3 separate regions of the Homo sapiens genome follow, and all the other regions are reported to be linked to region 1. Evidence: microRNA targets listed by miRTarBase, many of them from high-throughput screens and not tested one by one. Region 1 holds a microRNA gene; each other region holds the end of a gene's coding sequence.

What was found. Region 1 holds the annotated microRNA hsa-miR-557 (GUUUGCACGGGUGGGCCUUGUCU, at 2,571-2,593, opposite strand). A microRNA usually pairs through its seed, bases 2 to 8, with sites in the 3' UTR of a target mRNA and lowers its output. Matches are read on the target gene's strand: a 7mer-m8 pairs with bases 2 to 8, a 7mer-A1 pairs with bases 2 to 7 and ends in A, and an 8mer does both.
Region 2: the mRNA of PHIP is a reported target of hsa-miR-557. Seed matches in the 3' UTR shown: 7mer-A1 at 814-820.
Region 3: the mRNA of UNC5D is a reported target of hsa-miR-557. Seed matches in the 3' UTR shown: 7mer-A1 at 887-893.

What each region holds. Positions count from the first base shown.
Region 1 is chr1:168,374,108-168,378,176 of GRCh38, reverse strand. It overlaps MIR557 (microRNA 557), which reads right to left and starts at 2,653; the gene lies at 2,556-2,653.
Region 2 is chr6:78,937,319-78,941,387 of GRCh38, reverse strand. PHIP (PHIP subunit of CUL4-Ring ligase complex) reads left to right here. Exons shown (of 40, transcript NM_017934.7): 40 at 58-4,069. The coding sequence ends at 695. It also overlaps a transcript of IRAK1BP1 not described here. Among named protein-coding and RNA genes, the nearest start is that of IRAK1BP1, 72 kb to the right of the region's middle.
Region 3 is chr8:35,790,269-35,794,337 of GRCh38, reverse strand. UNC5D (unc-5 netrin receptor D) reads right to left here. Exons shown (of 17, transcript NM_080872.4): 17 at 1-3,979. The coding sequence ends at 3,775. Among named protein-coding and RNA genes, the nearest start is that of UNC5D, 560 kb to the right of the region's middle.

The DNA of each region.
Region 1 (4,069 bases):
AAGATGCCCTCCCTACCAAGAATTTGTGAGTGCAGCATCATCTGAGTCTGTATCCTCATTTCTACACATGCACTGGAACTCACCCCTTCTTTTGTTTCCTTCACACTTCTCTCAATCTTGCCCTCAATTGTTTTCTCAATAGCTTGACCTCTTCATTTGGACTTGACCCCATGCCCCAGCCACATTGTCCCCATTCTGCTGCCCCGTCCTCATCGTTGCATCTTCGCAGTAATGTATTCTCTTACCAATGTTTGAATGGAATTCCTTAAAATTGAGTGCAAAGAGAAAAGAGACTTTGCATTTGGGGGTAAATTTTTAGCAGAACCCACACACTTTGCTACTATTAAAAGCCATACTATAAAATCAAATACTGCTCAATTAATATCTTTAAGCAAATGTACGCATTAACTAATCAACATCCATGAGAAAGAGAGCTGAGAGGGAAATTATGCATAAGGGCAATTCTTCTGGTCAGGTAGCTCTGATAGTCAATGAAAAGGAGGGTAGAAAACATTTCTGTGTGAGGATAAACAGCGGATACCTCACCTGCCAGGAAGCACTTGAAATTCACTCACTCTTTTAACTTTTTTTTTTTTTTTATGATAGGGTATTGCTATGTTGCCCAGGCTGGTCTTGAACTCCTGGGCTCAAGCGATCTTCCCACTTTGGCCTCCGAAATGCTGGGATTACAGGCATGAGCCACGGCGCCCAGTCCACTCTTTTAACTTTCAAGGCTGACAGCTCCTTAAATGCAACTAGGTGGTGATTTCTCTACAGAACTGTGTTACTTCCCTAACTAAAACCTTCCTTAGTTTGTTCCACTCATTCCTCACTAAACTGTGGGAAATAAGAATCAAACTTATCTCTCCCAATCATCTTCCAAATGGAAAGAGAATGACACTCCCTCTTTCAAAAAAGAAGGGGTTGCTTCCTGCTATACATGATTTGCTGTACGTAGATTGATCAATATTGAAAAAAGAGGTTTACATGCACAAGGAAAGAAGTTGAAGGGGAATATTTCCCTGGAGGGTTCATTGGAGGTATTTTTGCATGTGTACAAGTGGATTCAATATTACTGCAACATGATATTTTCAATTTATTTATAAGAGATATTTAAAAGCAACAGGCATTGTACTCTCTGGGGACAGAAGTCCCCCAAGGCCAATTCCTGCCTTCACCTTAGCCTCACGGACAGAGTTCCCATCCTGACCCTCTGTGACACTTTACAACTTAGTGAGATTAAAAAAGAAGGACAGACAGAATTGTGGAGGTTAGCAGTAATGGAAATTAGAAGCATTTTGCAGCCACCCTTTTATTAAACCTTCTTCCCTGGCTCTTCTCTCCCAGCGATCATAGTACTCGTGTGCAGGATTAGAAAGTTCTCTGGCACAGAAGCACCTTTCTGATATTTCAGTCTTCACCATTCATTCCGTTGACATAATTAAGGCTTTTTTTCTAGACTCTCTCTGAAAATGCAAATATCCCAGAGACAGAAAAGTTGAAGACATGCTAAGGAATCAAGGTTTCAATGAGATAGAAAATTATACTGGTCATAATATTTCCATGGTAATTTACAGTTGATTAAGCACTTTCACAGGTATAGCCTTATTTGATACTTACTAACAAACATATGACTTAGAAAAGCAGGACATATTTTTGGTATTATCATTTCCATTTTACATAAAAGACTCCTGATAACCAGAAATATTGACCCAACACTCCTATCCTATGCAAGTTAAAGAGCTGATTACAGACTCAACACGAGATTTCTGCCTATCCAAGAATGGAGCTGGCCACAGTCAGAGTCATTCTCACTCTTCCCTCTCCCTTGCCTCTCCTGCTCCCCACACTGATCAGTCCCCAAGTCTGTGGCCCCAGAATCCCAGCTGTGCCTGGGTCCCAAGTCCGGAGACCCTCACCAATTTTCTGCCTCATTTTCCCGAAGTCAGGCAATTGCCTAAAGGACCCTGGGTCCTGTCCTTCCTTCCCTACCCTGCACCAGCAACCCCACTCTATACAATTCAACAATAACAAATTTTTATTGAGTACCTACTGTGCGCCAGGCTCTAGGCATTAGGATACAACATTGTAGGATGAGATCCAAAGGTCCTTCCTCCCAATCAGGACTCTCTTGCTTGGTTACCTGCCAGAGTTCTATGGATCTTTATTTCAGTGGTGAAGGTAATGATAATGCCTAAGAGTTGCTGGAGAAATTACAATGCATGAGTGACTATTCTCAGCATTTGACTTATGGTAACTCATCCAATCCTTATAACAGCCCTATGAGGTATTATTCATATTTAACAAATGAGAAAACTGAGACAGAAGGAGGTTGCCTAGTAAGACTGCACACCTAGTAAGAGGCAGAGCAGAGGTAGACAGAGGAACCTGGCTCGCAGTCTACACCCTTATCTCTTAGGCTAAGCTGTAAACTGGTGGAAGCAGTGGAAAGAGAAACAACCTTTAAACCAGTATGTATTAATATAATACTTCTCTGTGCTCAGGCTAGGAAGATAGAAATGAATCTAAGTGCCTCATAGAAGGAGCTTCCTTTCTCCACCTCCTTTCAAAGACAAGGCCCACCCGTGCAAACACTTCTCCAGCAGCAGGGAGGGCCCCAGGCCTCCAAATTTACTGTTCATTTGCCCATTCTGTCTGCACACCCTTGATCTGGCCCTGCCTTTCTGATCACCACTAATGCTGGGCCCTGGCTCCCAAGAATCTCCCAAAGCCCCCTTGGTCCGATAACACTTTGGCTGTGTGCCTCCAACTCAACCCAACACTCTGAGACCCATTTCTGATCATCAGCTCTCAGCCTTCACACTCTCTGACTTATGTAATAGGTCAGCCCATCCCAAATTAACCTGCACCTTCCCCCACCTGGAAGTGGGTTAAAATACTAGCTCAGACTTACTACCTATCAGCACAATATGCATGCTTGACTCATATTTGTTCCTTTGATTCACTTTCATTCATTTATCCCTTCAACAAATAATGTGCACCTACTATGGGCTAGGCATGTATAACATACTTTACATGCATTGTACCTTTAAATTCTCCCAAGGACACCATTAGGTTTCTATACTTCCATTTTATACATGATAAAGCTGAGTTCTCAGCACTTTTATCAAAGAAGAATTTGCTATCCACGAGCAACTTGAGGTGGGCCTACCTTTCACCTTCCCGCCCCAGGCCTTCAACAGGCACTCGGCAGACAGTTGTTAAATTGCGCTGGATTAACAAGCCAGCTGGGCACTGTGTGCAGCCTACCTCCTGATGACCCCCAGTGGAGATCTTGCTGTTCAGGGCCCTCTCTTGTTCATATTCACTTAGTAAAAATTGGCCTGGATGTCTCCTGCATTATCAGCAACCACCAGGCACAGTACCCAAGCTTTGCAAACTAGGAATGTTTAAAAATTTAGCTCTTGCCACATCTCTAGCAGAACAGAACCAAAAGCAATCATCTGACGTTAGGAGGTGCCACACACAAGCAATGAGGACCTCTGCCAGCCCAGCTTCCTCCTGGGGAGGTGAGCTTTCTGCCTGGGCACATGGAAAAATAACATGTATGATATGTGCTCTTTTCTTTGCCCTGGAGGCCTTGACAGCCGTCAGCTCTGTTCTGACAGGTCCTAACCATAATGAACCAGTAATGCTTCTTCAGGTCCTTGCTAAGCATTAGATCCCTAGGTGATGCTATGTACCAGGGGAGATCACCCAGAGACTCTGATCCCAAGGCAGCAGCCTTATTGGGGGATTTTAGCCCAGGATTTTCTCCAAACACAGGGGCACTAAAAGTCAGGCCTGACCTGACTGGAGGGTTTAGAATTCAGAGCCAATTGACCAAACACCTCCAAAGAGAAAAGCAAATGGTTTTCTAAAGACAGTGGTTCTTGCTGTTTCCTCTTAGGACTCCATTAATAAAATAATAATAAAAATAAAGTCTCATTAAAAGAAGATATTTAGTGCTCGCTTCAGCACACATATACTAAAAAAGAACATATTTAGAACAATTATTCCCTTCAGCAGGTTGTAATTCCTGTAACTCTCAGGGAACAGCTTTGGGCTC
Region 2 (4,069 bases), not on the chromosome of region 1:
GAGAGTCAAACAAAAAAAGAAACTCCATATATTAAGTGTACTGTTGTTCCCTTTTAGGAGATTGTAAGAACAACGCTCTTGTACCAGGAACCATTCAAGTAAATGGCCATGGAGGACAGCCATCAAAACTTGTGAAGAGGGGACCTGGAAGGAAACCTAAAGTAGAAGTTAATACCAATAGTGGTGAAATTATACACAAGAAAAGGGGTAGAAAGCCCAAAAAGCTACAGTATGCAAAGCCAGAAGATTTAGAGCAAAATAATGTGCATCCCATCAGAGATGAAGTACTTCCTTCTTCAACATGCAATTTTCTTTCTGAAACTAATAATGTAAAGGAAGATTTGTTACAGAAAAAGAATCGTGGAGGTAGGAAGCCCAAAAGGAAGATGAAGACACAAAAATTAGATGCAGATCTCCTAGTCCCTGCAAGTGTCAAAGTGTTAAGGAGAAGTAACCGAAAAAAGATAGATGATCCTATAGATGAGGAAGAAGAGTTTGAAGAACTCAAAGGCTCTGAACCCCACATGAGAACTAGAAATCAAGGTCGAAGGACAGCTTTCTATAATGAGGATGACTCTGAAGAGGAGCAAAGGCAGCTGTTGTTCGAAGACACCTCTTTAACTTTTGGAACTTCTAGTAGAGGACGAGTCCGAAAGTTGACTGAAAAAGCAAAAGCTAATTTAATTGGTTGGTAACTTGTACCAAAATATTTTACTTCAAAATCTATAAAGCAGGTACAGTTAAGGAATAAGTAGAACTAAGGCTTCTGCTTCCTTGCTGCTGTGGTGGAGTAGGGAATGTTATGATTTGATTTGCAAAAAAAAAAAAAAAAAAAAAAACAAACTTACGAGACACTTCACTTCTTTAAATGAATATATATATATATATATAAATATATACATATATATTTTAAATGTTTGCTATTTATTGCCCTTAGATAGGTTATGCATTTTCACATTCATTTCATTCACTGTTTGAAACGAAAGAAATTGATCTATAATGAATTCCTGATTTATTTATAGAAAAGACAATTCTGCTACACTCTTTAGGAGCATAATATTCCTAGTGATAGAGCATTTCATGTTAAAATGAATTATTTTTGACCAAGTGAGGTACATTTCTATTGATACAAGTCATGCCCCTAAAAGATAGATGTTATACAGAGTAGCAGTGAATTAAGAAATGTTTCCTCTAAAAGATAAATATAAAATTTCCACCATTTGATACCCTAAACAGTTTAATTTTAATTATAGAATGTTCATCTACAAAGTATCTAGAGGAGGCTTTTGCTTTATTCCATTTCTGCCAAACAAGAGAAAATGTACTGATGAAGGGAAACATATCCACATTGGAAAACATTTGACTGTCTAATTTTTCAGACCTTGATTCTTATATCACTCAATCTCTGTTTATTGTGCCAAAGACTGAGAATCAGTGCAGTGGAAAGCCTGTTTTTGACGTCAGGACAGCATACACTTTTCAATATTGGAAAGGCTATATATTCTAAAGAGCAAGTTATTAAAGAGTTATGCTGAGATATATCTTTTTTTGGTACTAATAGAAAATAATGCACTGGTGGGTCCTTTGACAGAGATGTTCTAGAGGAAATGTTTAAGTGGTTAAAGGATTCAAGGAAAATACAGGAAAAAAGGTATGGGATTTGATGTTTACTTGTTGATCTGGATTAATGTCATTTCTAAACTTTAGACATATCTAATAGCCTAAAATGACTTACAAAGAAACGTGTCTGTGTGTGTATGTGTATATATTGATAAATGGGTATAATTAAATATATATACAAACACATACTTATATACTATTACCCAGGTATAAATTCTTTTTTCAGGATTTTTTAGATAGCAGTAGAATAAAAATAATTTTAAAATGTCATACTTTATAGTTTAATTTTAAGGGGGAAATTGGTTATTTTCAATTATTAAAGGTTAAAATAGGCCAAATCACTTTTTATGCAATCATGTTTTATACAGTGGTCTCATTGCACATTGTGTTTTTTCTGCACTTTTTACGGTATCCTTATCATGCTGGTATGTCAATATACACCCTAAAGAAAAACTCCATTTAATGATTGTGCCTTGTATTCTATTATTTTTTGCATCATTAGTAAAATTAAGTTGTCTATTGTAAATGATAACTATATGACTTAGGAGAATGTATTGCTATATGTACTGCTATGGAAAAGGAAAGCAGTTATTTATTTGTTTATGGTACAGTTAGTTATTTTATACCTTAAAAACCAACATACTTACCATTTCTATTGTTTAAAAATTACTGTCCATTTTTTTAAAAATTTAAAGAATGTAGTATTTTCTGAGGACTGGTATGGTACAAAAATGTAATCAAAATTTTCAGATACTACATTTTTAAAAAGTGAGGATGGGGAAAATATGTATCAGCATGACCCTGATGTAGAAAAATAAAGTCTGCAATTGAACCTTGGCAAAATACATTACATAATTATTTCTGATAAGGATAAATATTAGCTGTCATTTAACTGTCGTGAAGAATGAAAAAGTGATACATTTGGGCTTTTTAGATCATTTGTAACTAAATTTGTACAGAAATTCTCCTGTGAAATTAAGTAAACCATTTTCCAGATCTTGACTGCATTGCTGAGATTTTGCAGTTGAAAAATAATTTCAAATTTTTCAGGTTTTTTGTATATTTATTTTTTTCTAACAAATATATTTAACTATAAAATTAAAATTCAGTAGTTAAACTCTTCATAATGCAGAAATGGATGGCTTGATTGTATAGAAAAATGAGTCTTTCAGTTACACCATTCTTGAAAATAATAGTGTATGTTTGAAATTTGTCATTAATTAGTTGCTTTTGAAGGCAATCTATTTGAAATATGTAATTTCCTGATGTTATCTGCATTGTGTTAAGAAAAAAATAATAGGCTATAAAATCAATTTTTGTAAAAAAAATGTACAGTTTTAAGTTGTGTACAGAAAAAGGAAGAGCGTACACAGTCTTAGAGTGGAATATACCTCTAGTACAGTGTATGTGTTAATTCCAACTCAAGCAAAGAAATGAGTATTTACCATCTTTCCTATAACATGTAAATGTATTATTCCTGTTCTACAGACACTGTATATTTATGACCTTATTTGGACATTATTAGACACTGGTTTCTTAGTAAAGCACAGTAACTTGGATCAGATTCTTTGTAACCGAAACACTTAAACATGTATTAGTAATACCAATATATTTAGATTTTATATTTTTATAATTTAGCTTCTATGCATTACAGAAGTTGAATTAAGAAATTTAAGTCATCACCATATTTTTGTTTTCTTTACCACTTGGGAAAATAATCCTCTTTGAGGCAGTAACACTATGTATGTACTGTTAATAGGCCAGAAAGAAATATTGGCAGTTGTCTTAGGTAAGCAATAAAAACATCTCCAATTTACTGAAAGTTCAGAAATATAACTCTTACATGCATGGAAAGTGTAAACCAATTTAGGTATTTCTAAGTACCCAACCCTAGTATTCTCTCCCTCAACTCCAACATTCTCAAGTCCCAGATGAAAAGTTTCAGTGGAGCATTAGTTTAAATATTTAGTCTAATCAGAGACTCACAGCCCTGGGCAATAGATACATAGCTTTTTAAAATTTTATCCTTTGTGACCTGCTATAGTGGCATTGGACTATTTTCTGCATGTATTATAAACTAAAGATTGGCCTTATTTCAATTGTTTTTATTGCACAACTTCACTACAAATTTAAAGACTGCTGGCATTATTATAAAACTGTCTTCCTCCAATCCAAGTAAATAAGTATGTGGAATATTTGTGAGCTGGATTAGGTAACATCTGAGACTTGGGATTGACTAAATTTAGTTATCACTTGGAAATGAATTACATAAGATACAGTAATCAGAGAAAATATCTTTATGCAGCATGTATGTTAACATCTAGAACTGTCCCTCATCTGCAGTGCAGTAGAGGAATCAGACATTTTAAGAAATGTATTCAAATATTTTTATCTTATATGTTAGCAGCATTTACATGTTTTCAGATATGATTTGTAATATAAATTAATT
Region 3 (4,069 bases), not on the chromosome of region 1:
GAGAGGAAGATTTCTCAGCTCCTTCACGATTCCTGTGACCTTTACAGAGCTGGAACAGAGACCTCTGCGAGAACTTTGCCTTCAATACATCTGATAGCTATATCACTCAACACATTTACAGAGGGCAGAGGGACTAAGAAATTGAAGAGAAAATGGCTAAAAGGAAAAACAAAAGCATATCAAGAGATTTTATAACATTTTGAAATTCACAGGTAAATTTGCCAGAAGTTTGGCAGTAGAAGATATTATCTAAAACCAATTATCCTATTTTAATCATCTACATTTGTTTATCAATCCTGATGCTGAGAATGTTTCTCAAGGAAAATAGTTGCAATAAATCCAGAACTTTTAATCCAAAGAGAACCCTGTTTTAGTGATTTGACTTAACATCCCCTCCCAAAGACAACTGAAAGAAAAATACAGAGACCTTGGCAAAAGACACCACCTGCAGTTGGAGATAAAAATAATAATAAAAAAGTTCTTCTCTTTAAAGAGAACTGTGTCAATTCTTTTTCATCTCTTACAAAAAGGCCAATAAAATTTTTGTGGGAGTACATCTGAGTTTTATGAGACTTCCTGCACTGGTAAATGAAGTTTGCATTTAAATCCATAGAGCAAGCTTCCTTTTGGCTTAAAGGATTTTAATGTAAACCAGTAAGAATGTAGAAGCAATGTTGTAAAAACTGTAAATTAACTTTATGATGCTACAGTCTGGTGAATCTGTGAAGTGCACCATTTTGGTGGCATAATTTAAAGCCATATTTAAAGCATGACTATTGGACTTAAATGCCTTTGAGGACTGAAAGATTTGGCATTGAGTGGGATATTTTTGTAAAAATTTTAAGTAACTTACCAAGTACTCGAGGCCACTTTTAATTTTGTTTCATTTTGCAATAGGACAATAAAATTTCCAAATTAAGTGCTTGGATAGATGAGTAAATCTCTTTCAAGAGGGGTATTTGTGTTGTGACAGGCACATATTACAATAGGACTAAATTTAGGTCACAGTGAATAACTAAGTTCAAGTGTAAGCTCACTTTTTATCTGATCTGCAATTCTACCTCCTCCACCACACCTTGGTCTGTAAATCTCACAAATGTGGGTTCTCTTTGAAATTGTATTGTAACATACTGTGCAATCCTGACATGCAGTGACCACAGAATTTCATACATTTCTATAGAAATCCTATGTAGGATCCTAGCAGCAATAAGTAAAAGAAACATAAAGAAGAAACAAGACAGGCTGAAGGATGAATTTGATTGAATCTTAGGCTGAAGTCTGAGGTGAATTAAGTTAACTTCCTCCTTTGTTATCCTATATGATATGATGTTCAAGTTGTTTATAAAACCCAGGCCAAAGGAAAAAAAAATCCATGGGAGGTAACTCCAGACATTCAGGGATTGACAATAATCTTGTCTCATCTTAAAATAATCTAGATAGATTTGAGGGAAAATCATTTAGAATTTTCATCTATTTAAAAATACTTAAAATGTATCAAACATCTAAAAAAAAAGACCTATGTAGATTCACAGAGTAGATGAAACAATTATAATGCCCATTAGAAGGGAAGAGGGAAAATGCTAAAGACAGTTTAAAACAAAAATCCTCCAAGATGGATTCCAACATAAGCTCTATAATGTGCTTTCTACAAGTTTTTACTCAATAGTGAATGCAGCTTTCCTCTGCACACCACCTCATGCCAACCAACTAGTGACTGGTTGACCATCTACTTCTCTTTCTCTTTCAGAAATTCTATCAGTGATGCCAGATGATTTACATTTTCATGCTGTTTATCTATTGTTTCCTAGAAGAAATAAATAAGTTAAGCACACTAGCAAAAGGGTGTTTTCCTGATCTTGACATGGTATTGTGAAAATATGCTTGACAGTTCTAAGATGATTTCTTTGTCCTACATCATAAGCCTTTGGTTCCTGAGAAAAGCGAGATGCTTTTGAATTACATGTAGCAAAGACTTCTATCTAATATAGGGGACCATACATACCACATGTTAGTTAGAGAAAATGGCCAACACATTCAAGAGTTCTTCCATGCCTTACCCATGGTATCACAAATTCAACTCATCTTTAGGCCTTTTTCACTTGGCATGGAGATTCACAACATTATTATTATTATTTTACAAGGGATCTACAAAAAACTTGTTTAAAAAAATGGATCATATCCCAACTGCCAAGTACTCCCCAACTCCCCACCTCCCCCATTCCCTGACTACTTTTTATTCGAATGTAACCAACCTCTAAGTAGCTGACTAGCTGCCTTGTGGTTCATCTGGGTCCTTGACTTTGGTTGTCCTGATTGTGAATAGCAAGTTAAAATATCCACCAGAAGATGAGCAAGAGCAAATCTGTTCACCTTTAGTCTACCAGGACATCTTGTCAAAAATAATTTAATAGGATAAAAAGATGGAGTAAAGTGATAAGATGAGGGTCATGAATTATCTGTGGATTTCAATCTTCCACAATATCACTGCCTCCTAATGTAAAAAAAAAAATCATAGAGCAATAGCCATATGTTAGTGGTTCTATAGAGAAAGCATATTCAGGGAGGCTGAATAGTCACAGGGTGAAGGCTTCCTGAATGATGCATGTGGTTTCAGGGACACTGTGGTAGAGGATTCCTCAAGTCTATTTACTCAGATATCATTTAGAGCAAAGACTATCTGCTAATTTCCCAAGAGGCAAAATGAGGATCACATATAGCCTTACTGAGAGATTTTGTGATGACACAGTACCCACATGTTAGACAATTTCAAGAATCTGGATTGAAAAATGCAGTAAACTCATTTTCTTATAACAACAATGTTAGATAACTAGATCAACACGTGTCTCCTAGAATTACAGCTGATTTGAGGCCTATGGCATCTGCAGTTCATGTGTTTTTGAACCTGCTTTAATCTCTCCTGTCCCCATATCCATGTAATAAGCTGTGTTCTAATAGCACTCAGCAATTTGAGTGGCTTAGATGGGAATAGAGATGGTCCCACTTTGTTGTGTTAGAAAAAACAACTTTCCGTATTGACAAGTTTAATTATGCTCCTTGATACCTCCCTACTGCAAGGGGTAAGGAAGAGGAAGAAAGAATAAGGGTAGATTTGTCTCAGGAAAAAAGTAAAAGGTGGAGTACACTATAAGAACTAGTTTGTGGTCTGTCTTACCTCTCCATTGTGTCTCCATTAAGTGGCTAGAAGAGACAGGGAGCTGGTGCTGGTGTGATGTGCTCAGATTCTAAATTCTAAATGCCCTCCTTGACGTTGTTGAAGTCATACAAATGGGTTGGCAACCCTGTTTCACGTCTAAAAGCCATTTTTACAATGATCTCTGACATCACAGATGCCAGTTGGTAGAAAACTCTGACAATCTAGTACCAGAATCAGCTGGCCCTTTGGGGCACATCATTAAAAACCTATTTCAAAGCATGCACTTAATCAATCTCTGCCTTCCCAGCATTATCATAGCTCATCTTTTCCCACAGCTACTTCTGCCCTCACTTTTATCCTTGCCACTCCAAATCTGAGGAGTTAACCCAAATGTGGATTCCAAGGAGATAGTAGAGCCCTCTTATATGTAAGAGAGCTTGTACTCTTCCCTATTAACATGTTTTACCTATATAAAATTTAGTTTCTTCAACAGGGGAATCTCACTGATTATAAATGAAGGCTGAATTCCCCCAACGCCACTGGGCAGAAAGCGGCCTCTTTCCCATTTAAAGCAAATGTCCCCAAGCTGGCCATCACTCTGTCTCATGGGAGGAAGTGGACTAGAGTCCATTTTGCCTGCTGTAGTTGAAGTCGGCTTCATCAAGCTGGGATTCTGAAATGTTTGAGAGTTTCGTGTGTGTCCTCCCAATCTCTTCAAGGGCACAGGCCAGGGAGTCAAGATCACCATCATGCTGATGACGAGCTTCCCACAGGTTCAAAATGACAGCAGATGGGCTACTTTGTGTAGCGAAATAAGATAAATTCCTAGATGGAGAGAGTTAAACACAAAGAACAAAACGAAACATGAAAATAAAGGAATAAACACTGATCACCATAAGAGAATTAAAAATGAAT